Homo sapiens: one gene and its partners. The protein of the gene in region 6 purifies or fractionates together with the protein of the main gene of each other region. This does not show direct contact. Each region holds a gene or a part of one and is shown on either strand. Other genes may lie near its edges. The genes, in order: SCAMP1, ATP1A3, TXNDC11, SLC25A15, SLC12A2, SHISAL1 and ATP13A1.

The links.
Region 1: the proteins of SHISAL1 (region 6) and SCAMP1 purify together in Homo sapiens (affinity purification with mass spectrometry; one large-scale study listed by BioGRID and IntAct). This does not show direct contact.
Region 2: the proteins of SHISAL1 (region 6) and ATP1A3 purify together in Homo sapiens (affinity purification with mass spectrometry; one large-scale study listed by BioGRID and IntAct). This does not show direct contact.
Region 3: the proteins of SHISAL1 (region 6) and TXNDC11 purify together in Homo sapiens (affinity purification with mass spectrometry; one large-scale study listed by BioGRID and IntAct). This does not show direct contact.
Region 4: the proteins of SHISAL1 (region 6) and SLC25A15 purify together in Homo sapiens (affinity purification with mass spectrometry; one large-scale study listed by BioGRID and IntAct). This does not show direct contact.
Region 5: the proteins of SHISAL1 (region 6) and SLC12A2 purify together in Homo sapiens (affinity purification with mass spectrometry; one large-scale study listed by BioGRID and IntAct). This does not show direct contact.
Region 7: the proteins of SHISAL1 (region 6) and ATP13A1 purify together in Homo sapiens (affinity purification with mass spectrometry; one large-scale study listed by BioGRID and IntAct). This does not show direct contact.

The regions. Positions count from the first base shown.
Region 1 is NC_000005.10:78,366,625-78,370,616, reverse strand, and holds part of SCAMP1 (secretory carrier-associated membrane protein 1), read right to left. Parts: intron 1-3,992. UniProt on the Homo sapiens protein: Functions in post-Golgi recycling pathways. Acts as a recycling carrier to the cell surface.
Region 2 is NC_000019.10:41,970,231-41,974,580, forward strand, and holds part of ATP1A3 (sodium/potassium-transporting ATPase subunit alpha-3), read right to left. Parts: intron 313-4,350; coding exon 158-312; intron 79-157; coding exon 1-78. UniProt on the Homo sapiens protein: This is the catalytic component of the active enzyme, which catalyzes the hydrolysis of ATP coupled with the exchange of sodium and potassium ions across the plasma membrane.
Region 3 is NC_000016.10:11,680,781-11,684,267, forward strand, and holds part of TXNDC11 (thioredoxin domain-containing protein 11), read right to left. Parts: intron 3,466-3,487; coding exon 3,385-3,465; intron 1-3,384. UniProt on the Homo sapiens protein: May act as a redox regulator involved in DUOX proteins folding. The interaction with DUOX1 and DUOX2 suggest that it belongs to a multiprotein complex constituting the thyroid H(2)O(2) generating system.
Region 4 is NC_000013.11:40,805,761-40,809,785, reverse strand, and holds part of SLC25A15 (mitochondrial ornithine transporter 1), read right to left. Parts: intron 2,493-4,025; coding exon 2,323-2,492; intron 1,349-2,322; coding exon 1,190-1,348; intron 244-1,189; coding exon 119-243; 3' UTR 1-118.
Region 5 is NC_000005.10:128,135,226-128,139,575, reverse strand, and holds part of SLC12A2 (solute carrier family 12 member 2), read right to left. Parts: intron 3,877-4,350; coding exon 3,768-3,876; intron 980-3,767; coding exon 852-979; intron 753-851; coding exon 668-752; intron 1-667. UniProt on the Homo sapiens protein: Cation-chloride cotransporter which mediates the electroneutral transport of chloride, potassium and/or sodium ions across the membrane. Plays a vital role in the regulation of ionic balance and cell volume.
Region 6 is NC_000022.11:44,295,703-44,300,052, forward strand, and holds part of SHISAL1 (protein shisa-like-1 precursor), read right to left. Parts: intron 1,184-4,350; coding exon 970-1,183; intron 1-969.
Region 7 is NC_000019.10:19,649,911-19,654,260, forward strand, and holds part of ATP13A1 (endoplasmic reticulum transmembrane helix translocase), read right to left. Parts: intron 4,235-4,350; coding exon 4,059-4,234; intron 3,985-4,058; coding exon 3,874-3,984; intron 2,811-3,873; coding exon 2,685-2,810; intron 1,888-2,684; coding exon 1,779-1,887; intron 31-1,778; coding exon 1-30. UniProt on the Homo sapiens protein: Endoplasmic reticulum translocase required to remove mitochondrial transmembrane proteins mistargeted to the endoplasmic reticulum.

The DNA of each region.
Region 1 (3,992 bases), on a different chromosome or scaffold from region 6:
TAATAGACAAAAAACAGAAACAACTTAGGTGTCCAGCAATGGATAAAGAAACATTACTAATTCTGAAAAGCACCCAAAGCCAAATGCCAAGGAGAAGGGGATTACTGGATTGCTCTCTGGGTATAGATCTGCAAGCCTTCTGCACAGAAAGGAGAACAGGGTTTTCCACACCAGTCTACACATATGAAGTCAAACGCTGCAGGACATTACAGACTGCCTCAGTAGGAACAACTCAGAGACTTGTTACAAGGTTAAATCTAACCAAACTCCATGTCACCTTTTATATCCCACACCCACTGAAAGTTGGAAAATTCTCCCTTGTGATTTAAAAACATCTTACAATATTTGCAAGTATATTACTCCACTACACCACCAAAAACTGTAGGTCTAAATACAGGCTTAACTCTATCACCCTTTTGGCAAGAAAATGTTACTTTACACTTACGGTTTAGCAATTCTGGTTGAAACAGACAGACTCACTCAGGTCACCCCAAATGCTGGGAGCAGGAGAATATTTTAAAGATATATACAGAAAGAAGAACGCCAGGTTTCACAGAGATTGAAATTCTTCATGACATGGCACATCCCTTCTAGTTAAAAAACACCTCTAATGAAGGACAGGAATTCTTGAAAATGGCCTTCAAAAGCCTAGTGAGATAACTGCTATTCCACTGCTTTGGACAAGTACCTTTGTTAAGATCAGTCAGCTGAGGCCAGGGTGGCAAAAGTCACACCCTAGAGGACATGATCACAAATGTGTAAGCTACCATGAGGGCTGCTCCCTCAGCAGAAGCTGAGGCTCAGAGCATAGCTGGTCTCTGAACATAAAGCATCCTCTCTAGCTGAACTGATCATACTTAATTCCAATATCCAATATGGTCGATATATTAGAACAGAGAAAATGCAGGAATACCTAGTTTCACTGTACTTCACAGATATTGCCTTTTTTAAAAAAATAAATTGAAGGTTTGTGGCAACCCTGCATCAAGCAAGTCTCGCAGCACCATTTTCCCAACAGCATGTGCTCACTTCACATCTCTAGCGTCACACTACGGTAGTATTCGCAATATTGCAAACTTTTTCATTATCATTATGTCTGCTATGGTGATCTGTGATCAGTGATACTTGATGTTACTACTGTAATTGTCTTGGGGTGCCACAAACCATGCCCATAACACTGCAAACTTACTTGATAAATGTTATGTGTCCTGGCCGGGCACGATGACTCACGCTTGTAATCCCAGCACTTTGGGAGGCCAAGGCAGGCAGATCACCTGAGGTCAGGAGTTGGAGACCAGCCTGGCCAACATGGTGAAACCCCGTCTCTACTAAAAATACAAAAAGTAACCAGGTGTGGCGGTGCACGCCTATAGTCCCAGCTACTCGGGAGGCTAAGGCAGGAAAATCGCTTGAACCTGCGTGGTGGAGGTTGCAGTGAGCCGAGATCACGCCACTGCACTCCAGCCTTGGAGACAGAGAGAGACCCTGTCTCAAAAAAAAAAAAAAAATTGTGTGTCCTGACTATTCCACCAACCAGTTGTTCCCATTCTCTGTCCCTCTCCTTGGGTCTCCCTATTCCCTGAGACATTACAATATTGAAATTAGGCATCTCTGTAGGTTATCCAACTTCTGCTTGAATTTCTGCAAGTGCTGGAGAATGCCCTACCAAAAGAGCATTGTCAGGCCATGGTAGCAGATTTTTAAAAGTCTGTTTGGACAAAATTTACCTTTACCTTCAAGTAAACTTTGCCAGTTAACCTTAGATTCTTTTTCTAAAGCAACAAATAACAAGTTTATTCACTTACCTAAGAACACTTTAAGTATCTGATGGGAGCTCTCCTATTTCCCTTTAGCCCTCTGTAGACTAAATCCACTGAGTAATTGAAACTTAAATTGTTCTTCCTAGAACTTGATTCCAGTCCCATGACCATTCTGACTGTCCTCTTTGGGCATATCCTAGTATTTTCAAACCACTCTTTAAATATGCACTTGCAATTGAGAAGAATACCCAGCTATTAGACCAGAACAGAATACTATAGGATTATTAATTTTAAGGAACTGATCACTAATTTCACTAAGCCAATATATATTTTTCAGCAACTATATCACACTGGTGGTTCATATTAAGGAAATAACCAATAAATTATTTGGATCTGCATTTATCACTATTAAATATTAATCATAGTCCAAAAAAAACTTTTGGTAATATCAGCACAAGAACAGTTTACTTTCGAAATTTTCATAATCACCATCATCTCATATGACTGTAAAGCTACAGGGCCAAAATAAAACTGTGTTCAAATCTTAGTTTTGTCACGTGGCACAGCAGCCTCCTATGGCAGCAGCCTTCCCCTGGCCATATGAGATGCTCAACCTAGACAAAAGTTTTCTAAACATCTGAAGAATACCGACCATGGCAACGGACACTTCACCCTAAATGAAGATTGTCTCAAAAAGAATGACAAATGTGGTTTTTAAGGCATGGTTTGAACTCTGGTAAGATTAAAAAGAAACTGTTAAGAGAGTTGTGACAGCCTGGACTAAAGAAACAGTTCAAAATTAATAGAAACTTCTGGGCTCCCAATTTTCAATGGGCAAGAAGCAGGCCAAAAATGCTACTCAGCTGCCAAAAGGGCTCATTCTTATAGAAAAAAATAAATAAAGGACCTCTCAGAGGGTGGAGCCAAAAGCAGAAGAAAATAACAGGTGAAGGAACCAATACGAGGTAGCAGAACTGGGCCCTAATCAAGAAACATTCATTGTCCCCAATGTAGGGGACCCTAACAACACGTGCCTGGCTAGATTTCAGAACTGCTATGCATCAGCAGGTGCTACACGCCTCCCACTCTTTCCCTATTTGAATGGGAGTGTCTAGTGAAGTTATCCTACGACTACCTCGCCATTTTATACTAGGTGTATCTTCAGATCATAGGTCTGTCTCCAGTCAAGAAGTGGAGCCTATTGCTTGCCACTCCTTTTAAAATCTAGGCTGAACTTGTGCCTTGTTTTGACCAACAGAATACAGCAGAAGTAGCATATGATTCAAGAAGCCTTGTAGATTCAGCTCTTGCCCTCTGGGAGCACTGCTGCTACTATGCACAAAGCCCATTTATTACTAGTAGAGAGGCTACATGAAAGACAGCTAATTGCTGTGCCCACTGACATCTCCAGGTAACCAGCAGGCACTTGAGTAAGGATATCTGAAACCATAAACCAGGTGACTGAAGCCACTTTAGTGACTCCAGAAAAGAACATTAAAAAAAAGAAAAAACCTGCCCAGCTAAGTCTAGCGCAATTAACAGAATCGTGAGCAAATAATTGTTATTTTAAGCCATTATATTTTGGGATTGTTACATAGCAACAGATAAGTGAGACAGTGGTAAATAAGATAATGGTGCATCTTACAAAGGATGGCATCTTAAGTTGATGAAATATAACAGCAGCTCAATATGTGCTTTTTAAAAACATTAACATGAGGAAAAATGAGCAGGAATTCATGCAGTTGACATGAACGTAAAATAACACAGGCCCACAAACTGCAACCACTATGTTCCAGATTAATGTTAAAAGACAGTTTTCAAAATGTGACAATCACAAAGGAAATCCTCAGAATACTTTCCTAGTGCTATCCAATCTCCAAACTCAAAATTTTATATCTTTTTTTTGTTTGTTTTTTGGGTTTTTTTTTTTTTTTTTGAGACAGGGTCTCACTCTGTCACCCTCCCGCCTCAGCCTCCCAAGTAGCTTAGATTACAGGTGTGCACCACCACACCCAGCTAACTTTTAAATTTTAGTAGAGATGGAAGTCTCACTATGTTGCCCAGGCTGGTCTCAAACTCTTGGGTTCAAGCAATCCTCCTGCCTTGGCTTCCCAAAGCACTGGGATTACAAGCATGAGCTATCAAGCTCAGCCTCAAAATTTTAAACAGATAAGGGAGGAGTGAAATCAACTTGTAAGTATCATTGTCAAGGTAAATGAAATAAGATGGATA
Region 2 (4,350 bases), on a different chromosome or scaffold from region 6:
GTCCGTCCGCGGGTTCCTGGGCTGTCTCTTCATGATGTCGCTTTCGGCAGCCTCGTACGCCAGTGAGATGGCAGGGACCTAGGCGGAGGAGGCCGGGTGAGCCGGAGAGGGGAGGACTCCACCCTCCTGGGCCCCAAGGGTGGCTGCCAGGGCTCACCATGTCAGTGCCCAGATCGATGCAGAGGATGGTGATGGTGCCCAGGGGCAGCGGGATGTTGGCCATGATGAACAGCAGGAAGGGCGTGATCTCCGGGATATTGCTGGTCAGGGTGTAGGCAATGGACTTCTTTAGGTTGTCGAAGATCAGGCGGCCTGTGGCACAGGCAGGCTCAGAGCAGGCGCCCATGCCAGGGAGCCCCACTCCCTCTGCCCCTCCTCTGCCCTCATCCAACGTCCTTTTTTTTTTTTTTTTTTTTTTTGAGACAGAGTCTCGCTGTGTTGCCCAGGCTGGAGTGCAGTGGTGCGATCTCGGCTCACTGCAGGCTCCGCCTCCCGGGTTCACGCCATTCTCCTGCCTCAGCCTCCCGAGTAGCTGGCACTACAGGCACCTGCCACCACGCCCGGCTAATTTTTTTGTATTTTTATTAGAGACGGGGTTTCACTGTGTTAGCCTGCATGGTCTCAATCTCCTGACCTCGTGATCTGCCCTCCTCGGCCTCCTGAAGTGCTGGGATTACAGGCGTGAGCCACCGCGCCCGGCCTGTCCAGCGTCCTTTTCTACCCCCCAGCCCACCCACCATTATTTTCTTTTTGGGACAGGGTCTCACTCTGTTGCCCAGGCTGCAGTGCAGTGGCATGATCACGGCTCACTGCAACCTCGACTCCCAGGCTCAAGTGATCCTCCTGCCTCAGCCTCCCATGTAGCTGAGACTACAGTCACGCGCCACCACGTCCAGCTAATTTTTGTATTTTTAGTAGAGACAGAGTCTCACCACTTTTCCTAGGCTTGTCTAATTTCTGGGCTGTGATTCCATCTCAGCCTCCCGAAGTGCTGGGATTACAGGCATAAGTCTCCACACCTGGCCCCTCACCCACCTACCTTTCCACATAAACATCCAACCACATCGCCTTTGTGGAAACATTCTTGAAATAACCACTTTGGAAGATGGTTTCGGAGTTGCTATCAAACATCCCCCACCCCACCGACCGAGTAATCCGACTCCTAGGTTTTATACCCAAAAGAGAGGAGGACTGTTTATGCCCAGCGAAAAGCAAGTACGAGAATGTTCACCATAGCACCACTCATCAGAGCCAAAAGCCAGAGTCAACCCCATGTCCATCAACAGGTGAGGGATGAATAAACCACGGTACATCCATGCAGTCAAATACTACACAGCAAGAAGGGGCGAGCTACGGACACAACTCCACAGCTGGACCTTGGATCCCGTGCTGAGTGACACGAGCCAGACACAAAAGCATTCTTAGCATCCAACTCCAACTGGAGCAGGCTCAGCACCCGTCTCTGGGCTAAAAGTCAGGATAATGGTTATGTCTAGGAGGAGGGATATAGACTGGAAGAGAGCAGACAAAACCTAAATGGGGGGCTGGAATGGTTTTCTATCTTGACTGGGGTCTGGTGGTTGCATGGCTGTGTACATGTGTAAAAATTTATACACCCTGTCTGGTTGAATATTTTAATGAGATATAATATGCCCAACTCACTGTATGCATGCCATATCTCAATAAATATTCAACCAGTACAGGTTGTCTAAAGTAAACAAAATAAAGATTAATCCAGGCCAGGCGCTGGGGCTCACACCTGTAATCCCAACACTTTGGGAGACCGAAGCAGGAGGATTGCCTGAGATCAAGAGTTCAAGACCAGCCTGGCCAACATGATGAAACCCCATCTCTACTAAAAATACAAAAATTAGCTGGGCGTGGTGGTGGGCACCTGTAACCCCAGCTACTTGGGAGGCTGAGGCAGGAGAATCATTTGAACCTCAGAGGCAGACGTTGCAGTGAGCCGCAATTGTGCCATTGCACTCCAGCCTGGGCAACAGAGCAAGACTCCATCTCAAAAAAATAAAATAAAATAAAATAAACATTAGTCAGGCACGGTGGCTCGAGCCTGTGGTCGCAGCTACTTGGGAGGCTGAGGTGGGAGGATCACTTGAGGAGGTCGAGGTTGCAGTGACTGATGATTGCAGCACTGCGCTCCAGCCTGGGCAACAGAGTGAGACCTTGTCTCTAAATAAATAAATAAGTAAAAAGATTAGCCCATGAACAATGAGGTCAATCATTAAGAAAGAACAGGCGGGCACGGTGGCAAACACCTGTAATCCCAGCACTTTGGGAGGCTGAGGCGGGTGGATCACGAGGTCAGGAGATCGAGACTATCCTGGCCAACATGGTGAAACCCCATCTCTACTAAAACACAAAAAATTAGCTGGGAGTGGTGGTGTGTGCCTGTAGTTCCAGCTATGTGGGAAGCTGAGGCAGAAGAATCGCTTGAAGCTGGGAGGTGGAGGTTGCAGTGAGCCAACATCACGCCACTGCACTCCAGCCTGGCAACAGAGCAAGACTCCATCAAAAAAAGGGGAGGGGAGGGGAGGGGGAAGGAAGGAAGGAAGGGGAAGGAAGGAAGGAAGGAAGGAAGGAAGGAAGGAAGGAAGGAAGGAAGGAAGGAAAGAAGGAAGGAAGGCAGGCAGGCAGGGACGGAGGGAGGGAGGAAGGGAGGGAGGGAGGGAAGGGAAGGTGAAGCAGGCTGCCTGTGGTGTGGCTTCTTTGATTGCTTTGATGTCTCTTGCATAGCAATAAGGGCCTGGGCCGCTCCCACCTGATATTCTCGTTCCCTGCATTGTGCTCTTCTCCACAAACTAGGGGTTTCTCATCCTAAACTATTTATGGATGAAATGGTGACAAATGTGCATCAGCATAATCCAGTGTGTGTTCCAGGTGGTGGGGAAGAAACAAGGTGTGCCGTGCGCTGACTGCCGCTGCAGGTGGGATGGAGGCGCAGGGGCCCACTGTGCCTTTGCTTTACTTTTGGGTATATCTGGAATGCCCCCGTTGGAAGTTATTTTGTTTGTTTGTTTGAGACAGGGTCTCGGATCTCGCTCTATCCCAGGCTGGAGTGCAGTGGCACCATCATGGTTCATGGCAGCCTCGACCACCCAGGCTCAAGTGATCCTCCTGCCTCAGCCCCCCAAGTCTCTGAGACTACAGGTGTGCAACACCACGCCCTGCTAATTTTTAAAATTTTTTGATCTTTGAGGTCTTAATTTGTTGTACAGGCAGGTCTTGAACTCCTGGGCTCAAGCGATCCTCCCGCCTTGGTCTCCCAAAGTGCTGGGATTACAGGCGTGAGCCCCCGTGCCTGGCCCCTGACGGAAGTTAGGTATTTCTTCCCTCACTTCAGAGAGGCCTTCCCTGTCCACCCCATCTGGGCAGGACCCTCACTATTATCTATCACAGCGGCCTGCTTTCTTCGGGGCATATATCACAATTTGTAATTACATATCTGTTAACTTGTTTAAGGCTGTCTCTCCAGCCCTGTGAGAACAGGGATGGTGTCTGCTCTGCTCACAGCTGCCTCCCAGGCTTCCAGCATGATGCACAAGATTCGGAAGGAGCAGACGGCTGTATCTGAGACAGTGTGTGTACTGTGTATGCATAGATGTCTTGGGGAGGCCAGGCGTGGTGGCTCATGCCTGTAATCCCAGCAAATTGGGAGGCCAAGGTGGGAGGATTGCTTGAGCCCAGGAGTTGAAGACCTCGCTGGGCGAGGTGGCTCACCCCTGCAATCCCAGCACTTTGGGAGGCCAAGGTGCGGGGATCACTTCAGGTCAGGAGATCAAGACCAGCCTGGCTAACATGGTGAAACCCCATCTCTACTAAAAATACAAAAATTAGCCTGGTGTGGTGGCATGCACCTGTAATTCTAGCTACTCGGGAGGCTGAAGCAGGAGAATTGCTTGAACCCAGGAGGTGGAGGCTACAGTAAGCCGAGATTGCATGCCTGTACTCCAGCCTGGGTGACAGAGCAAGACTCTGTCTCAAAAAAAAAGAAAGACTAGTCTGGGCAACATGGCGAAACCCCATCTCTACAAAATCTTAAAAATCAGCCAGGTGTGATGGTGCATACCTGTAGTCTCAGCTACTTAGGGGCCTGAGGCAGGAGGATCGATTAAGTCCCGGAGGTGGAGGCTGCAGTTAGCCGTGATTGTGCCACTGCACTCCATCCTGGGTGACAGATTGAGACTCTATCCCCGCCCCCAGCCCCCAAAAAAAGATGTCTCTTGGGAGATAAGAAGGTGTTAACCATGGTTTCCTCTGGGATATAGGAGACAAGGGCTGAGGACATTTAATCTGTTACTCTGGGCTCGGCTTTGCCGTTTGAATTCTCTT
Region 3 (3,487 bases), on a different chromosome or scaffold from region 6:
GTTTTATAATTTTGGGGTAAACATTCAACCATCCCCTCCTTTAAAGCTTAGTTTTCTTAACATATAAGCTTTCTTCAAGTGGGGCCCAGCCATTCAAATGACAAAGCTGGGTGTGGTGCTGTGTGCCTGTAATCCCAGTGCTTTGGGAGGCTGAGGTGGGAGGATCGCTTGAGGCCAGGAGTTTGAGACCAGCCTGGACAATATAGTAAGGCCTCATCTGTATAAAAAGTAAGATAAAAAAATTAGCCAGGCAAGGTGGCACACACCTGTAGATCCAGCTACTTAGGAGCCTGAGGTGGGAGGATCACTTGAGTCCAGGAGTTCAAGACTGCAGTGAGCCGTAATTGCACCACTGCACTCCAGCCTGGGCAACAGAGTCAGACCTTGTCTCAAAAACAGAAAACCAAAAAACCCCACAACAACTGAAAACACATCGTGGCCCTGTCAAGTGGGCCCATGGAAGAATACCAGACGCTGGACCTGCCCCCACGTTCTGCGGCACAAGCCTGGTCTTGTAAGGCAGAGTAAACGTGAATTACTTCCCAGAAAAAGCTGCCAAGATCCCTCAGGATGTCTACCTCCAGACATTTACAGGACAGTGACATCCGTGAGCATGCTATCTGCTAACTAAGAGGTCTTGGTGCACTCTCCATCAATGTCCCTAATGGGCACACTAAAATACTGCCACACTTTGTGAAAGTAGCAGGGACAGAGAATGTCAACAGTCTACTTCCAGGAAAGCAGTCATGTGAAACTATGGTGGGAAGAGGTCCCCATGTCTATGCAACTCTCCTCTAACCCTGAGGGAGTGGCAGGGCACACCTCTAAAAAACTGTGATTCTTCCCCTGGGACACATCAGAGTCTCTTGGTGGACAGGAGCACCCATCTCCCCCTCATCACCCTGGCCCAGGGCCAGGCCAGAGCACCTATATTTTGCAATGTCACACAGAGTCTGACGCAAGTGCTGGCTGGAGGAGCACCTGCTCGGTGGAGCAAGTGGCTCCAAGATGCCTCTGCACAGGAAGGCTATGTCTCCCTCAAGGCCCCACCCCTTCCTCTTCCTCCCAAGGACAGGCTCTTGCATTTTTTTCCTTCATGATTTTTATAAATCAAGACATGCTCTTTGTAGACAATTTGCAAGGGATGTAAAAACATACAAGCAGCACCTTCAAATCACTTGCAATCTCACTCCTCTGAAGTCATCAATGTTAACACCTCAACATTTTCCCCTCTGTGAACATCTCCACCTAGCACATGCACAAGTTTATATTTTATCACAGTAAATATACAATTTCATATTCTTTTCACTAAAAATAGCATAAGCAGGTGGACAATGAAAAAGGTCTTACTACATGTTATCCAACAGCCTTTTTCATTTCCTCTTTTGCAAGCTGTCAGCTCACGCTGCTTGCCCATTTACCTTCTGGCTAAACCAAACACTCGCTTGGGACCAGCTCATGATGAGCATACTTTACTTCTACCATTTATTTTTAGGAAATGAGAAAAATTCCATTCCAAAGCCATAAAGCTTTGGTTTACCAACATCCTTACATTAAAAGAGAAGTGGACAGTCTTCTTATGTTCGATATTTAGAAACGACAAGGGTAAGGGCCTGCAGCAAGTGCCCAGCATGGGGCCGGAGAAATGCGCACATCTTCACGTTTCCCACACCAGGCAGCCTAAGAACGAAGGTCACTCAGCCCAGACGCAGGCCTCCAGATGACGCCCCACCCTGCCACCTGTTCCGCCTGTGTCTCTCTACACAGATGCATTTCTGCCAGCTGCTGAGAACTTCTTCATTAAAAGGCATGTGCTGGGTGCTAAGATTTTCATATTTTTTCAAACTATGCTTGGAATTCAAAAATTATACGTCATTAAACTACATGCCCAACTCCTGGCCCACACAGATGAAAGTGTTAGTGTTACTGTCCGTGATTCCTGGACTATGTGGTAATTTAAACACTTCTTAGAAAGAAAAAGCCTCATCACAACTCAGTCAGCAGTAGAAAAGGGTGAGTCACATTCTGTTTTTAGTGCATGATGTGACAAGACCCTACTACCACAGAAGTACTCCCGCAAAAATTCTTTGAGATACAAAGCAAAAACCAAGGGAATGATTCAATAGATATGAAGGAAACACTCTCCTAGAGAAACATGACAAGCTGAATCGCAAAAGGGAGGCAGGAAATTAAAACAGCAAACGTCATACATGCGAGCCAGGGAACTCCCTAAATGATGCTGCAGACACTTTCCCCTGGAGAGAAGATACTGTCAAAGTCATGTGAGTGGGTCCCCAAAAGGACTCAACTTTCTAAAAACCAAAGGGAATCTATAAAAAGGGAGCAAACATCCAGTGTATTAGGCTCTAAAGGACCAAGAGTTAATTTCTTTTTCCACTAAAACATCTGCATCTACGTTTACTAACTGGAAGTCCGCTCCCCCTTGTTAATGTCCTGCTTGCAGGGGCTTCCGGGGTAGTTGCCGTTAAGAACTGCACCTGGAATACTGATTAGGCAAGTGTGAAAAAATCAAGCGACCATCCCATGGCGGACGTTCACAGCAGTCTGCACGCATGGGAGAAAACCCCTTTGTAGGCCTCCTGGAATCCGAGAAAAGGACGTGCCATGGGTAAGAAAGCCACCCTGTCCTCTGTACGAGAGGGATGAGGAGCTGCTGGGAGGCCAACTGAGAGACAAGCAAGTGGAAGGCTTGGGGCAGGCAGGGCTCCACAGATTCTCTGCTGTTTTGCCCCACACAAACATTGCACCACTGCACTCCAGCCAGGGCAACAGAAGAATCCTGTCAGTCTCTGCGTCCTCCATATGTTCATACAGGCCATGAAAGCTAAGAATTCTCACGGCCACATTCAAGCTCGGGTAAGAGATAGACTGGGAAAAACAACCTTTAAAAGATCCATACCACACATAACATCCTGACACTACAACCCTTTTATGTCCCTAAGGACACTTTTTTTTTTTTTTTTTTTTTGAGGCAGAGCCTCGCTCTGTCACCCAGGTTGGAGTGCAGTGGTGTGATCTTGGCTCACTGCAACCTCCGCATCCCAGGTTCAAGAGATTCTCGTGCCTCAGCCTCAGAGTAGCTGGGATTACAAGCATATGTCACCATGCCTGGCTAATTTTTGTATTTTTTGTACTGATGGGGTTTCACCATGTCGGCCAGGCTGGTCTCAACCTCTTGAGCTCAAGCAATCTGCCTGCCTCAGCCTCCCAAAGTGCTGGGATTACAGGCATGAGCCACCACGCCTGGTTCCTAAGGGAACATTTTTTGAACATAATGAATGATTTACATCTTAAACCCATTTCATTTTCAGACCTCCACAAAAGAATCCCAACTGCCCACCAGTGACAAAAATTTGGCATTACCTGTTGCAGGGAAAAAACAAGACAGTAGGAAGACGATCGACCATAAATTCCCAAGGAAGGTCATTCTGAGACACGTCAATCCTGGTAAAGGGAAAGAACAGAA
Region 4 (4,025 bases), on a different chromosome or scaffold from region 6:
AAAAAGCAAAATTCCCAAGAAATCAGAATAACTTCACACTGGTCTTGTACTCCAAGAAACCCTGAGATGAACTGTAGTCCTCAAACACCTGTGCTTGGCTCAGGCCCACCAAGACACTTCAGTATGCTTCCAACTGGTTCATCATCAACTTCCTGCTATATTCGTAGGCCAAAAAGAGTGCTCCATTGGCAGGGAATGCTCGAATCATAGTAGGTTTCAGTCCAGAATATAAGGCCGTTATTCCTAGCAAATAAAAGGGCGGTCAAAGACTGCAACAATCCCTCCTTTGGGGATACCCACGCAGCTGCATAGCATAGGTATATTTACACATGCAAACCCAGACAACAGTGCTAAAAACCAACAAGTCATAGAAGGATGCATTCCCAGCTTTTCCTAAATAGACTAATGGAAACAAGGACAAGTATCAGGTCTCCTGGCAAAACTGACTGATGCTCAGGTAACATACCCCAATTCCACGCTTGGTTAACTCTTAGTATATGGATGGGGCAGAGCTGAGGCCTGAGATGGCCAGACAGAGGCAACCATGGAGATAGAGGTGGCAGCAGCTTTGCAGCTTCACCTGGGCAGTGGCAGGAACACCAACCTTGAAGTTGGAGACCTGTGTATAGTATTAGTACTGCCCAGGGTGGTTATGAAGATTGAATTAGATAAGGGAGGTGTAAGTACTTTGTAAAACTTTACATGTTATACAAATGTAAGGGAGGATTACTATGAGTAACAGACAAGGTATCTGTCCTCTATTTGGGACACAAAGTTTCTGTGTTACTGTCCTCTTTCTTTTTACAATCAAAACAGAGTTCATATCTCAGATTTTTTTTTTTTTTTTTTTTTTGAGACAGAGTCTCGCTGTTGCCCAGGCTGGAGTGCAGTGGTGCAATCTCAGCTCACTGCAAGCTCCGCCTCCCAGGTTGACGCCATTCTCCTGTCTCAGCCTCCCGAGTAGCTGGGACTACAGGTGCCTGCCACCACGCCTGGCTGATTTTTTTGGTATTTTTAGTAGAGACGGGGTTTCACCGTGTTAGCCAGGATGGTCTCGATCTCCTGACCTCATGATCCACCTGCCTCAGCCTCCCAAAGTGCTGGGATCACAGGCATGAGCCACCACGCCCGGCCCGTATCTCAGATTTTAAGATGTATATAGATGCTTGAAAAACAGGTATTTACTCACCTTCATTTTTCACAACATTTATAAAGGTTCTGATAAATCCTGCCTGTTTTCCAGACATGGAAAGAACTTGAATTCTGGATTTGATACAATCCACTGGGTATACCGCAAGCCAGAGGCAAATCCCACCAACTCCACCACTTAACATCAAAGGTACAGGGCCTAGAGAAAAAAAAAATAGCAAATGGTATTTTGTCTCAAGAACAGCTGATGTGACATTTCCAGAGGTCAATGTAGTAATGGCTGCAGGTAGATGAAAATAAAAATGCTAATGCTACAGAATACAATTCTTTGAGGAAAACTGTCAAAGCTCTTGTTCCCAAGCTCTAAGAACACAGGGTTTTGTTTGGTAGCCCAGGTCTACTCCTGGGTCTTGCCAAGTACAAGAAGCCTTAGTGAGGGTTATATTTCGCTTGGTCACTGAGGTGTCAAGGGCTGGCCCACACGAACCAGCAGGCCTCCAGCTGAGTGGCAACCCCCTACAGTGGGGAGAAGACAGGCCAAACACAATCTATGTCTTTTTTCAACTTTCTCACTCTTAAGTATTTTAATAGCCCTGATTCTTCATTTATCATTAAAAGCCAAAATTGTTTTTATTAAACATAGCAATTAAGTCTGGGAGCTTGACTAACCACAGAATAGATTCAACACACACTGAGGGAGATGGTAAGAAAAACTCACTTATGTGAGCCAAACATTGCATGTAGTTGTACCAACCAGCTAAACACGATAAGCTACAAAGAACTATGGTTTTCACTGCTCTCAAAACACTATTAAGATTTCCAAGTTTTAACCTTATTTCAAGATTATTTATAGGTGATTCCCCAATTGGGAAAGTAATTTCTGGATTTCTTCTCCCCTAAAATAGATCCAGAAAAATTAAAAAACTTTATTCCAGTAAGAAAGTTTGGGATGTACTGCTTCAGGCCCTGTCCTAAGGAAATTATCAGGCCTGGAGGGTGGGTGCTATCAACTGCCTGCCACCATGTTACCTTCAGGCATCCAGAAGCTTCCCTGTGCCAGATGGAGCCACCAATGTGGGGAGGAGAGCACAAAGGGCAGAGAATCCACAGAAACCATACCTGCAGGGAGCAAACACCATCACACCCCACTGCTGTCAATGCAAACACATTTACCTAATTCATCTTTTGATCTCCCTGATGCAAAAAAGGACCGGCTCAGTTCATAGCCACCGAAGAAGAAGAAATAGCCTGGTACTTCTCGAAGTAAAGTGCTTGAGAGTCCATGGTAGAACCCCAAGGGGCCATCTTTCCTAAGAATACTTTTGATGACAGACCACACTGTACTGGGAGGAGACACAGAGAGATAGCACGGTTACAGCAGGTGGGAAGGAAGAAAAGACAAGGGCATTTGCAACCAATTAACAGATCTGATCAAGCACTAGTAAGGAAGAAGCTGATTTTGTAAATGAAGAGCCAGGAATTAAGACTCAACGGCATCCTTCTGTGGGAAGGAAATTTATTTACAGTAAGGAATTATCTAAACTCAGCAAACATAAAATGGCATTGTATTGCCCAGTCCCTTATCGCTGTGATTCCTATTTCCTCAATCTTTCTGGTGTGTTTTTGGGAAATTTGTTCAGGTGTTTACAGGATCTGTTTTTAGTGCAGAGAAATGAGTGAAGGAGTAAATGTTGTCTGAAGACAAGACAAATTCTGAGAACAAGTTATATAGCTCCTGTTATGCAGAAGCACCAAGAATTTATTTCTCAGAGCACCAGGGATGCGGGAGAATTTCTTCTAAGCAGCCCTGCTCCTGTAGCAGCCAGAACACAGGACACTCTTTGTCTGACTCCCCTTCATGATTGAGGGCAACCAGGGCAGGTTTATCCCTGCTAAGAACAGGCCAAGAAATCACATACTCAGTGCAACTTAGTGAATCCCTCTCTCCTCACTTTGTTCTCAGCAAGAAGGAGACTTGGCTTGGACAGATGAAGGATCAAGTCCCAAGGTAATAAAGGCCACAGACATTTAAAAACTATTTTCCTTCTGAGAGCTTCAGAAGACACTGTCAGGTATTCCCCATCAGCCAGCCCTTCCTGCAGCACTGCTACATGGAATGTAACAAAGTAATCCAGCTCAACACAATTAACCTCCCTTCCAATCCGAGTCTTAGCCCCAAGCTACCATACCATGCCTTGTGTGAACACTGCTAGACCTCAAATACAAAGTCAACTGATAATTCAAGGTGTTGATCTGCCTAAGTCCTTTGGATATAACTATTACTATCTTTTAATTACCTTGAATTACTTCCAAGGAACATGAGGGCAGCTTTCTGGGTGTTGTTAATGTTCTATTTGTTAATCTGGACACAGGTTACAAAGGCACATAAATTGTGTCACTATTTATAGAGCTGCATACTGTGACTTCAATGTGCATTCATGATACTATGTGTATTATTTCAATAAAAAGTTTTAAAGACTTACACTCTTGGACTTCTAGGCAATGAATATTAGATTCAAGTTGGCTGTAATGAATCTCAAGGGTGCAGAAAATAGGGCACTTTTCCAAACCCCATTCTCACTGAGTGGGGACTGATCCTTGAAAATGGTCAATTTATCTACTGCTTTTTCCCAGCAGATTTATAGGCTTTGAGTTAACCACAGCAATATCCTTGGTCAGAACTCAGCCAGATGTCAAGATAAGTAAGCAAGTTTTGCAATTAATAAGGATAATAAATTGCTTTCCAATTCAAGTAAATCAAATTGTGTATGAAACAGTACTCTCAAAGGATAATGAGAATGTGTTTTCAAGAGTGAGCTAGAGAGTGATTTAATCACTGAAGAGTAGCTATGCTTATAAAAGTATTGATTAATGTT
Region 5 (4,350 bases), on a different chromosome or scaffold from region 6:
TTGGTAGTGAAATCTCGGAACTTCTATCCTCTCATCTGTAAGAAAAGGATTAGAGACTGGTTGACCACTTAAGTCCTTTCAAGTTGATCCCATGAAGTAACCATGAAGTTGATCCATGATCCCATGAAGTAATAACATGGTTTTGAAATCACTTTCATTCAATTTACTAAGAATTTAGTAAAACTTTTCCTAAGTAAAACTTAGTATGTCCTAATCTTCAAAACCAGTGTTTTTATAGTAAAAAATTGCCAAGCATTGCTTAATAGCCTTGAAAGAATCTTCATATACTGTAAAAAAAAAAAATAAATAACCATCTTAAAAAAATACAGAAATTTGTAAGAGTGAAATTCATTTGCTTCTACACATACATTGTTTTCAGTATCTCAGTGGAATGAGTTTATAGATGCAATTTCATATAATTTTTTAATTTACCATAATTAATAAAAATCCTGGAGATACCATAAAGCATTTGGCGGTTTAGATAATGTCTATAGAAGTCATTACTAGTTTTCTAAAAACTGTTTTTGAATTATAATGAGCAACTCCATGTCTTTTTATTGAAATATTTCTGTATTTAAAAAAGTTAGCAAATGTCATAAAAATAAGTATTTATAGTACGTACATCATGAAATTTCTGCGACACATAAAGAAATGTGAAACTATTTACCTACAGATACTGCAATTCCTACGTAAACCAATGTAGTAATTAAAATGGCTAGGAGTGTTCCTTTGGGTATGGCTGACTGAGGATCCTAGAAGACAAGAAGATTTTTTAAAGTCTATCTGTAAAAATAAATATACAAATTCCACTTTTAAAATATATAATTGATATAGCACTTTATAATACTTACTGCAAGATCACCTGAGATATTTGCTCCAGCCAGAATACCAGTTGCAGCAGGAAAAAAGATGGCAAATACAGAAAAGAAAGTCTCTTCCTCTCGAAAATCGGGCCCAAAGTTCTCATTAAATATTTCAGCTGCAGAGAACAAAATATTCTTGACAATTAATGGAGAGCAAATTAGACTATAATAACTGAGGTCAAGAATAATAGGTATACATGACCCCTAACTTTTCTTCAGTTAAAGTAACGAGTAAATTTTTGCATATTTCCCAGTTCAAGTATTTGGTGTTCTTTTCTTGTATGAGACAATGGTTTACCATCAAAATGATCATCTGATCTGATTCATGTCTCATTTTTTGTATACCTCGCTAATTATGTTTCAAGAGCCTCTGAATGAATTGTTATGACTAGCCCAAATGCAAATCAAAATGTGGATAATCCCCTCAATCTCTGAGGTAAAAGAAGCAAGAAGGGAGGTAGAAAAACAAAAGGGGGCATGGCGTGGTGCCTCACGCCTGTAATTTCAGCACGTTGGGAGACCGAAGCAGGCAGATTTCTTGAGCCCAGCAGTTTGAGACCAGCCTGGGCAACACAAGGAAGACCTTGACTCTAGAAATAATTAAAAAATTAGCCAGGAGTGGTGGCACATGCCTGTGGTCCCAGCTACTTGGGAGGCTGGGGTGAGAGAATCATTTAAGCCTGGACAGTCGACACTCCAGTGACCCATGATCATGCCATTGCACTCCAGCCTGGGTGACAGAGTGAGACCCCATCTCAAGAAAAAAAAAAAAAAGGAAAACAAAAGCAACATCATAATAATATAGAATCAACTTTTTGATAGCTTCCAACTTACTTTACTATCTGTATAGATTTTGGTCCACAGCTTTCTCTGCTGTCTAGTCACCTATTGATTTTTGAGGCTGTCAGACAATTAGCTACCCTAAGTAAAGTTCCTTTCTATTTCAACAACAATAAAAGCTTCAACTAGACCTAGTGTTTTCATCTCTGACTCTAAGATAACCGACTAACTGTAATGTATCCATCTATCCATTCAATACTTCAGCAGCTACTATGTGTCAGGTCCTGTACTAGAGCTTTCTAGCACCTCAAAGTACTTGGAGATGCAATATAAACAAGTTAGACATTGTTCCTGCCTTCATGGAATTTAAGAGTCTCAATAGCAAATGACCAAAATAACAGGTAATTATAAACAGCAGTAAATGTTCTGATGGAAACAGGGATTTGTGAATAACAAATGAGAGAGAGAGAGAATCTAATTCAATGTGGTTACAGAAGGCTAAGCAAATATAAGGAAGGAGACAATACTTAAGCTAAGAGTTTGCTGAGCAAGAATCAGCCATGTGATCATCAGGGAAAAAGAGTATACCAGAAAAGAGAAACAACATATATGAAGACCCCAAAGTAGAAAAAGGTTTAACTCTTCTGAGGAAATAAAAGAAGATAAAATTCTTATAGTAAGGAGAAAAATTAAATGAAATTGGAGTGACCACTGAGGAACAGAGTGTGAATATTTTATAAAAGTTAAATTTATCCTAAATAAAATGGAAAACCAAAGTAGGGTCATAAACACGCAAATGACATATACTATTAATGTTGTGTGGACAATGGACTGAAAGATTCAACATCTGATAACAGGGAGGCCCATTAGGAGGTTGCTGCAGAGGTTCAATCTAGAGATGGGAGAATAAATACACTGATTAGGAAAGGATTAGAAATTAAGAGGAGCAGGTAGGACGGGAAACACTAAGATCCTGGTTTCAGCTACTTGCTTAGATGGAAAAGCCTGAGAAGAAATAAGTAGGAGAGACTTCAAATAATCAGTTGGATATATATTTATGTTTGGACTTTAAAGGAGAGATTCAGGAATAGAAACATGTCAGTCCCTTAATAGCATTTTGAGCCATGAGAATACACACCACCCAAGGGAGAGTGTATAGTTAGAAGGTCAGCACTATAATAGTTGTAAAATTCTGCATTTAAAGGGGGTAACAGGAGTAATGGACATAGTGACCAGTGAGTTAGGCACCTAGGGTATCTGACATCGAATAAAATAGACATGTTTCAAGAAGGAGAAGGAATGACTAAGAGAAATGAAGCAGAGGACAAAAAATTCATAGTGCATCTATCACCATCTGACATATTTTAACCAACAAAAGCCAGATGTGAGAGGGGTTAAGGATGAAGCCATTTGGTAGAAGTTTGACAGGGCTATGAACAGTCTCAGAGTATTCTTCCACAGATCACTTACTAACTGCAAAGAAAAAAACAGCAACTTCACAATAGAGAAACTGTGCAGGTATAACCTTGACTAAGTCATCAAAACTAACACCACTAAGTAATATAAAAAACTGCATCATGCACCCTCCAAATGTGCTGGACTGAGAAGGAGACACGGTTCACTTACGTTCCTGACAAACATAAATAACCTGAATCTATAAAAACAAATAAGACAAACCCAACTGGAGAGATCTCCTAAAAATCAAATGGCCTGCACTCTTGAAAAATGCAATTATACCAATAATTGCTTTCACAATCTTAGGCGCTTTTATACTGTTGTGCTTAAATATGTTAAAAGAATGAAAGTCATATTAGAACAAAAGTTAGAAATTCAGTTACAAATTCCCAAAACTAGTAGAGAATAAAATCTCCTTTTCTTAGCAGCACTGATTTCTCCATATTCTATCACCTTTTGTTGCTAATAATGAAAAAGAAAAGATGTAAATAGAAGTAATTTTTACTCCAACTGTACAGCATAAAGGGGACAAAACTAAATTGTAAATTAGGGTGAATCACCAAACCATAGTCAATTCTGTTACAAAATATCTGAAATGTACAAAATTTAATTGATGATAGAATTCTATAAATAGGTACCCTTAAAAAATATTGAATCTTTTTTACTTACATTTATAACCAAAAAACCCTTTTGGCTTCTTGCTCTCCAGTGGGATAAATGTTCCTATGACGAAATCACCAATAGCAAGAAGTAGGATCACCAAAAGAACAATCTGAGCCTGCAATTTTAAACATTAAAAATTAAAATCAAGTATCTTGTTTCTATATCTTGATTCAATTCCCCTAGAATATAACTTCCATGAGGGAAAGAATTTCTGTCTTGTTTTGCCTGATTCCCCAGTGCCTTAAACAATGCCATATGCCAAGCAGCTGCTCAATAAATCCTTGTTTAATGAACAAAGAGATCTTTAAAGAAATATCTGGGGAAAAAAAAGATAGTAAAAGTGAGATCATGCCATATTTCTGAAATGAGTTAAAGATGTGCATGCCTTCCCACAAACCATAAAGCACTGTAAATTCCAAAACAATATAGGCTTTCATTCTAGATCATTCATTCCTGTCTCTTCCACCTTAACACTACCATCTTGACATGGAGAACATGCTGGACACAAACACAAGTTTTATACATGGTCCAAACATAATGTTGAGTGTGTGATTGCTACAGGAAAATAAGAAAAAGTACAGAAAGAAGA
Region 6 (4,350 bases):
AAACAAAAACTTCAATAGAAAAATGACAGAAGACATAAACAGCTAGCTCACGGTAAAAGAAATACAAATGTCTCTCAGGCATGTGAAAAGACGGCCAGCTTCACTCATAATAGAGAAACGCATGCTGTTTTGAAACTCCATGACTCTACTTAGCGTGTTCCCATTGCTTTTCTAACAGCAAACTCTCTCTTTCTCCACACCTGTGGTCCCCTCCATCAGGCCCTGATCCCAATGTATTTTAATCACCTTAAGGAAAAGAACTGCATGGGATTAATCTCTGGGTCAATGGTGTCAATCAGTATTTGTTAAATGAATGAAGAATGAATGAAGGAACCCGGTGGATTACAGGCCCAGGCGCCTTCTACGCCTGAAAGCTTTCCACATCCTTAACCTCACTTAGCTTCTATGGTAACCCTGCAAAGTGAGTATTCTGTGTCCCTCCCTCCCTCCCTCCCTCTTTTCTTTTCTTTTTTGAGACGGAGTTTCACTCTTGTCACCCAGGCTGGAGTGCAATGGCGCCATCTCTGCTCACTGCAACCCTCTGCCTCCTGGGTTCAAGTGATTCTCCTGCCTCAGCCTCCTGAGTAGCTGGGATTACAGGCACCTGCCACCACATCCTGCTAATTTTTGTATTTTTAGTAGAGATGGGGTTTCACCATGTTGGCTAGGCTGGTCTCGAACTCCTGACCTCAGGTGATCCACCCACCTCATTCTCCCAAAGTGCTAGGATTACAGGTGTGAGCTACCGCGCCTGGCCTCTGTGTCCATTTCTCAGATGAGAAAGCTGAAACTTAGAAGGCACAATGGGCCGAAAACCCTGGTCATCCAAAGACTCTCCCAGACTCCTTCCAGGCCCACCCAACCTTATAGCGGTTACCCAACCGCCTCCCTAGGGGACGCGATTTTGGGAGGCAGGCCCCTTGCCTGGGGCCCGAGGCAGTGGGGTTGCACCCCCAGAGTGGCACTCACTTGTGCATGTAACCCTCGGAGCTGGCCGTGAGGTTCGCCTGCATCACCGCCTGGAACTCCGTCTCGTTGCAGCAGTATTTGAAGACCGTGTTGTTATGGTGACAACAGAGGATGAAGGTCTTGTTGTCCGAGAGCCGGGGGCAGTGGAAGCCAAAGTGGTAGCGGCCTTTGTGGTCTGTGTATGGTTCACAGACCCGGAAATGTGCAGACAAGACTGGAAGACAGAGTCACCAGGCTCAGAGGGGTCCCTCACCAGTCCACGGGTGCCAAGAGGCAGGGGGACTGGCCGGCCTCTTCTCAGGTCCTGCCTGCTTCTTCCCTCCCCTGGATGCCTTTGTGGTCCACTGTGAGCCTCACCTCTGGGTTCCCATTACCCCGAGCCTCCCAGCCCTGGTTACATTCTCTGTGTCACCCAGACTGGCTGGTCCTGGAGGGCAGGGCTGGCTCTCCTGCTTCGGTGAACATGCTTGACATGCAGCAGTCACTCAATTAGGAAATCAGCCTTAACTGAGCACCTACTGTATGCTTCACAGACCCATCTCATTTAACTCACACAGCCAAGCAAGTCTGAGATCCCACTTTACAGATGGAGAAACTGAGGCTCAGAGACCTAAGGTGACTTGCCCGAGCTGATAAGTGTTGGAGGGACAGGAATGGAACTCAGGCCTGGATTCAAAGTTTGGGGCCCTCTCCAGTCTTGTATCACTAGCTCTTTGTTCCCAGGTGGGCAGTGGTGGACCTGCTGCTCAGCCCAGGCTGGCCCGGGTGGTGGCTGGCATAGGTGCAAGGACCTCTTGGGTACCTCTTGGGTCAAAAACAGCAGACCCTTCGTTCCTTGGTTTCTACTAAACTAGTACCCTAGGCCCCAAGGTCCCCAAGGGCCTGCCTCAGTCACCCCCACCTCACGGTGGTAGCTCTGCCTTGGCCTGGAACCCTCCCACCACTCTGCTCAGGGGCGGAGGCCCCTATTCAGCCACCAATGCTACTGCAAACCCAGGATGGTATTTACGAGTCGTGCCGATGGTGATAAACAGGACTGAAAGTCTGAACAAATATAACAATGGAAAAAACCTAAAGCCCGCTCTCTCAGGCTTAATTAGTATCTTCATAAAAGAGATCGCTGTATCTAATTTGTATCACTGAAAAGGGGCTTCGCTGGCTGAATACATTCCTTTAACCACAAAGGCAGTGGCTTTGCAGGAGTTCCTCCAGCTCGTTGAAAGCTCTGTGTCTGCTGAGAGGTTATTAGACTGCAGCCCACACAGCTCCCCACCTACCCACCCGGGGCTGCTGCAGGGGAGTCCCAGCTGGGCTGGGCTGGGCTGGAAGATGGGCAGGCGGCCTTCATGTGCTGGGGTGCTGAGGCTGCCTCCGGCGGGGGGCATGAAATTCCACACCCCTTCCCCCACAGACAGCACCCTCTTCTGTGGGGATGGGCATGACCACTGCGAGAGAAAGGTCTCAGCTTTTGGGGAACCAGGGGAGCTCTCCAGGCCCCCTTCTCTTCCTCAACCTTAAGAAAGAAGAATACCCCCTCTGGGGATGTAGAGGTTATTAGAGAGCCCCAAGTAGACAGCTGTCTCACCCCATCTCATTTATTCCCATCGTACAGGGGAGAAAACTGTGGCTCAGAGCAGCAGTTCCCAAAGTGTGGCCCCTGATCGGCCTCGAGGGCATCCCCGGAGGGCTTGTCAGAAATGCAGATTCTCAGGCCACTGGGCTTCTGAATCAGAAGCTCCGGGGTAGGCCCCGCCGTCTGTCCTGGCAAGCCCTCCAGGGGATGCTGATGGGCTTGGGTTTGGGGCCCACTGGCCTAGCGGCAAGGGGCAGAGGCAGCTAGCCAGTTCCGGTCACTGTCTGGGTCACTGCCCAGGTCAGTGAGGAGGCCCTGCTCACGCTCAGTGCGTGGGCAGCTGGGGAGGAACCAGGCACACTCACGCTGCTGGGCAGAAAGTCTAGCTTAGGCCCTGGGACCAGCCCGTGAGGCTACCACAGGACTCAGGGAGGGAAGGGACAGAGCGGTAGGGCAGCATGGGGAGGCAGCCTTTGAGCTGGGCCTCAAGGGACTGGGAGGAGCCTGATATGCAGAGATGGGGGGCCGGGGAGGGCAGGCCCGGCGAGGTTGGGGGATGTGGAAGGGTCCTGCCCATTACCAGCACCCAGCTCACCCGGCCACCACTGGGCGGTCAGCGCCATGGGCTTTGGCCATTTGGTAACGATGAAGCCTCCCCGGCTGCCTTCCCGGAGCCAACAGAGCCCTGGGCTGGGAGCCGGGACAACCGGGTGGGAGTCCTGGCATGAGGCTGCCTGGGCCATCGTGACCTCTCTGGCCTCCTCCCCTCACTGATGAAAGACTCATGGTCTCCAAGGCGGGCTGGGGGCTCCCAGGAGCGTTTTGTAAACAGCAAGGCGCAGCCCCCACCTAGAGAAAGAGGCTGTGTGTGCACTAGGGGCCCTACGAGCACTAGAGGCTGTAAAGGGCAGTAAAGGGCAGCATCCGTGGGCTTCTGCTCTGGGGCATGGCGTGACTCCAGGCCGAGGGACACTCTGTTAGGAGGCCCCAGCAGAGCAGGGACGCAAAGGAGAGAGCCGCATTTCGGGCCCCGAAGCCTCAACCATGAACGCACCCCTGTGTGCACAGCTCCACGTAACTCCTGCATCTGGATGGCCCTGATTCACTGGCTGGCCCCTCCCCTGAAGGGGTGACCTCGGGCAGGCCGCTTTCCTTCTGAGTGTCTCACCTTCCTCATTTGTAAAATGGGCTGAGTGGGTCCGTCCTCCAGGGATGGTGAGGACCAGGTGAGCCAAAGCATGGGAAGCATCTGGGGTGGGGAGAGCAGCTGGGTAGCCCCCAGACCCCTGGCCTGGGCGTGGCTTTGGCTTTGCTGTCCGGGGAGCCCTGCCAAGCACCCCCAGACATCCTCATAGCCTCCCTCTGAGCTGCCCCCAGCAAAGGGGCAGGGGCTGAAAACCACCAGGCCAGTGTCAGTGACCCTGTTAGAGCATGCGGGCATGAGGAGGTACAGAGAGACACAGAGACAGAGACAGAGAGATGGAGACAGAGACAGAAAGACAGAGTCAGAGAAAGACAGAGACAGAGACAGAAACACAAAGACAGAGATAGAAAAAGACAGAGGCAGACATAGACAGAGACAGAGACACAGAGAGATAGACAGAGACAGAGAGACAGAGACAGACACAGAGACACAGAAAGACAGAGACAGAGAGACAGAGACAGAGACAGAAACAGAGACAGACACAGAGACACAGAGAGACAGACAGAGACAGACACAGAGACATAGACAGAGACAAAGACAAAGAGGCAGAGGACAGAAACAGAGAGACAGAGACAGACACAGAGACACAGAAAGAGACAGAGAG
Region 7 (4,350 bases), on a different chromosome or scaffold from region 6:
CGTCAATGGAGCGCCACTCGCACTGCCGGCCTGCGGGCAGCACCTAGGGTTAGGGCTGGGGGCTTGGCTGACCGGGCTCAGAAGCACCCTCCCTCCACTCGGACCCCAGCACCAGCCAGTCTCTCCTCTCTGGAGCCCGCACCTCCCTACCCACCCAGGTGACCCCCAGCCCTTCTCTGGGGACTCCACAAAGAATGTCCCTCAGGTGCACAGGGTGGAACCAAGAGCCTGGGGCCTGAGCTACTTGCCTGAGAGCCCGGGACACAGCCAGATTAGAACCTGGGCAGTCTGACCCCAGCTAAGCCATGCCCCCACCTCATGCAAGGCCCCCTAACCTGAAACACACAGAAGGGGGCTATTGCGCTCTCCTTGGGAAACCCCACACCAGGCCCTCACCTCATTTATCCCTGCGCCCGTGGCCTCTCTGAAATCCTGTTTTCTCGGGGCTGGGCCCCCTCCCAACTCTGACAGGGCCCCTGAGTTCTCAACATCTTCTTGCTCCACTTCCCCTTTCTTGCTGGCTGGCCCTGGCTTGGATGCTGGGCGCTGAGGATGGCCAAGGGCGGCCCGCCAGCCCTCCTGGCACTGCCTGCTCACCCTGGACCATCTCAAGCTGAAGGGCAGCACACTTCCACCTGGCTTGTGCTGCAGCTGTTGCTAGACCAGCTTCGCTTGTCAATCAACAGTTCTGCTCATCCGCTCCATGCCACCTGCCCACAATCCCCAGGCCCTGGAAGACCCCGGTAGCTGGGGCTGGGACAGGGGGAGGCCTGCGACCAATAGAACAGAGGGAGGGCAGGGACCGAGTCCTCTGAGAGGTGGCCTGGAGGTTCCGGAAGCTGCTCTGGCCCAGACCTGTGAATGTTTGCTGCCAGCAGCCCTGTGGCAACACTGCTCCATGTGGTTCTTCTTAGGGCCCTGTCAACACTCATGCAGGTCCTGAACTGCGTGCGCCCACAGGGGCTTCACCTCTAGCTCTGGGGCAGGTATCTGGTAAGCCCCACACCTCTAGCTGGGAGGGGCTGGGTCTCTATGTCTGCCTCTTCATCAATCTGAATCCAGGGCATTGCTCAAAGAGGTCACTGGGGAGAGGTTGGAGCCTTGAGCTCTGGAATCAGGCTGTCTGGATTCCAATCCTTAGCCATGGATTGGAAGTGACCTGGGCAAGTGGGTTCACTTCTGAGCCTCTGTCCCTTCTCTACAAAGCAGGGCCCCGAGAGCTGACCCAGCCAGCTTCCTCCTCTGTGGTGTGGGGAAGGCAAGCCACCCCGTGTGGTGCAGGATGGGGTGGAGGGACCAACGCAGTAACACGCACGGAGCGCTCCGCCTGGGGTCTGGTCAGGCTGAGCACTGGGCAAACTGCCATCAACTGTGGCTGAGGATGCCAGCAGTCCCTGTGCTCGGGAAGGGAGCACTCGGTACATGGGCAGCTTGCCGGGCCAAAGAGGGTGTGAAATGAGGATGACACTGAGGATGGGGAGTAAGCGTGGTAGGAGCAGTATCTGCCCATGAGTGCACAGGAAACCCGAGCTGGCAGTCAGACTATCGCCTCATTATGGTAAATAAACACCTACATGCCGCACATCCTGGGACCTGCGACCCAGTGAACGCTCACATGCTGTCCGAGGTGCCCAGTGGGCCAGGGCTGTGATTAGTGGTGCCAGGCATTTGAAGACACTGTGCTGCTGAGGCCTGGTACACAGGTGGGCTGTTGCGATGGGAGCTGTTCTTGGACTCAGGGTCCCCCTTCCCCACTGTGGGCCAGGCTAGGGCCTCACCTTTCTCGGAGGGAGGCTGCAGGATCAGCGTGTGGGCCTTTTCAATGAAGTGCAGCTCCTGGGCCACGTGGCATGCAGTGAGCGGGTTGTCTCCCGTGATCATGACCACCTTGGGTAAAGAGGGGCAGAGGCTCAGCATGGCACCCTGGGGCCAAGCTCTAGGCCAGAGACAAGGCTGCCAAGTCTCCTTCTAAGGTAGGCCACAGTGGGAGATCCTGGGCCTCTAACCGAGATGCTGAATGGGCTTCCAAGGGCCACAACCCACCCCCACCCAGGTCATTTTACACAAATGACACGTGTATGTGCGTCCTTCTGAAGACACCCTTAGCTTGGATTTGCAATACAAATGAACAACCTGCCCCTGAGGTGGACCCTTTTGGCTTGGTAGCTGCCCATGGGGGTAATATTTCAGCAAAGAGGAGGATGGGACCATGACCTCTGGGCTTGGTGGGGACTAATCACATCACCCATGTGACCCAGAGCCATCATCCTCTGAGACGGCTCACTCACCCCTTACACCCTAAAAGACACCCTAAGTCCCAAAATAGAAAACACAAGCCACCAGAAGCCACCAGGACAGGCAGACAGTGCCCCCCACCCAACTCCCCAGCCTCAGCTTCCTTCTCTCCAGGACGGCGGTGGAACGGGGAAGTGGAGAGAAGTGCCCCCATCTTCCCATGATGCGGGGAGTGAAGGGAGTGGTCTGTGGAGGAGAGAGGAGCCAGCACAGGCGGGTCCCAGAGTGTCCTTGGGCCAGTGGCAATGTTAGCACCTGAGCTATGATCTTGCTCAGCTAAAACATGCAGCCTGTGAGACTTGGGTGCCCACCCCTACCACGAAGCTGTAATTGTCATCTCCTCGCCTCTATTTCCCATGCAGAGGGTGGAGCCGAGCACCGTCCCATACCCGGTGGGACGCATTCTGGATCTCCCGGATCACGGCCTTGGAGTCAGCCTTGAGCGGGCAGGAGACCACAATGAAGCCGACGAACTTGAGGCTGCACTCCAGGGCCTCCCGCTTGACCTCCCGGGCCTGCGGACAGACAGGGGCACCCTCACCATCTGTCCCTCCCTCTGCCCACACTCTGCATTTCCTGAGCTCTGACCATGCGCTGGGAGCCAAGGGGACAATGGAAGGCCCTGTTCCCGTAGTGGGCACATGCGAGGGTTGGGAGGGGAGAAATGCCAGGAGGGTACCAGGCACGCTTGAGGGGTGGGATCTGGCAGTGACTGGGGGGTCTGGGTCCCCCGAATGTGGCTCTATGTCCTGCTTGCGGACATGGGCACATCACAGAGTCCCTTGTGGCTCAGCTTCCAAGTCAATGAAGTAGGGACTCTCCCAATAATGTTGGAGTTTAGCCAGGAACTCTTACTCACTGGGGCTCCACCACATACCACAGACTGGGCACAGACCCCTGGCCTTAGGGAGCTCACACTGCACCAGGGGAGACGCATGATCAAGAAAGTCACAGAAATCGGAGTGCTGAGTGCCATGAGAGAGGAGGTGAGAATGGAATCCAGAGAGGGTGGAAAGGCCTCAGAAGTGGCCACTATGAAGGCGATGAGGACCTGTGTCACTGGGAAGGGGGCTCCAGGTGCAGGAACGGGGCAGAGCATGCAGGCTGTGAGCTGTGGCCTGGGCTCTGCACACAGTACTGCAACCTGAGGCTAAATTCTGGAAGGATCCGCAGCTGTAGGGTGCAAGCAGAAAGAACGAGAGCCCAGGAAGAAGCCAAGCGGCAGATGTGCCGGTGGTGGAGGCGGAGGGTGGGCTTTGTGGAGGATGGATGGGTGAGAGGGCTGAGGATGCCACCTAGCCCTGCCCAAGACCAGGGCAAAAGAGTAGAGCTAGGGACACACCAGGACTGGGGCAGGTAAGCCCTGCGTGTGCTCTGCGTGAGCCAGGACTGGGTGGGTCCCCACAGCAGTGGACAGACTGAGTGCCATTTGGAGTCTCCAAAGGTAGAAGCTGGAGGCGGGGCAAGGAGGACAAAATCACAACCATTCAACCTGGCACTGTGGGACACAGGAGGTGACTCAGGGAGGAGCTGACGGGCCAGGCACATGGTGAAGGCAGGGGGAGCCTGGGCCCGTACCTGCTGGTGAGTGAGGTGTCCCAGCTCCTTGTACCCCAGCGCCAGGACGCGGGCTCCTTCCCGGGAGATCTCGGTGTGGATGTGGTGGTAGTCGGGCGGGCACTGGGAGAACTGCAGGGAATGCAGGGGGATGTCACGGGCTGCCCCGCGCCCCCACCCCTTGCCCCAGGCTGGGGCCAGCTCACCATGGAGTGCAGAGTTTCGGGGGCCCCCTTCACGGCCGCGATGTAGCAGAGGTCGGTGGAGCCCAGCTTCTCATACGAGGCAAGCACGGACATTCGCTTCAGGGCACTGGCAAAATGAAAGCGCTGGTGAATTTTCAGCCCCTGAGTTTTAATACTTCGGGGGAATACTTTCTCATCTGGAAACAAATAAGTACGAGTCCTGAGGGGCTTTGCTCCAAAGAGGCAGCCAAGCCCCTACCTCTCACCCCGGCCTCCCCCACCTCCCTCCTGCCTCCCCCAGGGCCTGATCGGG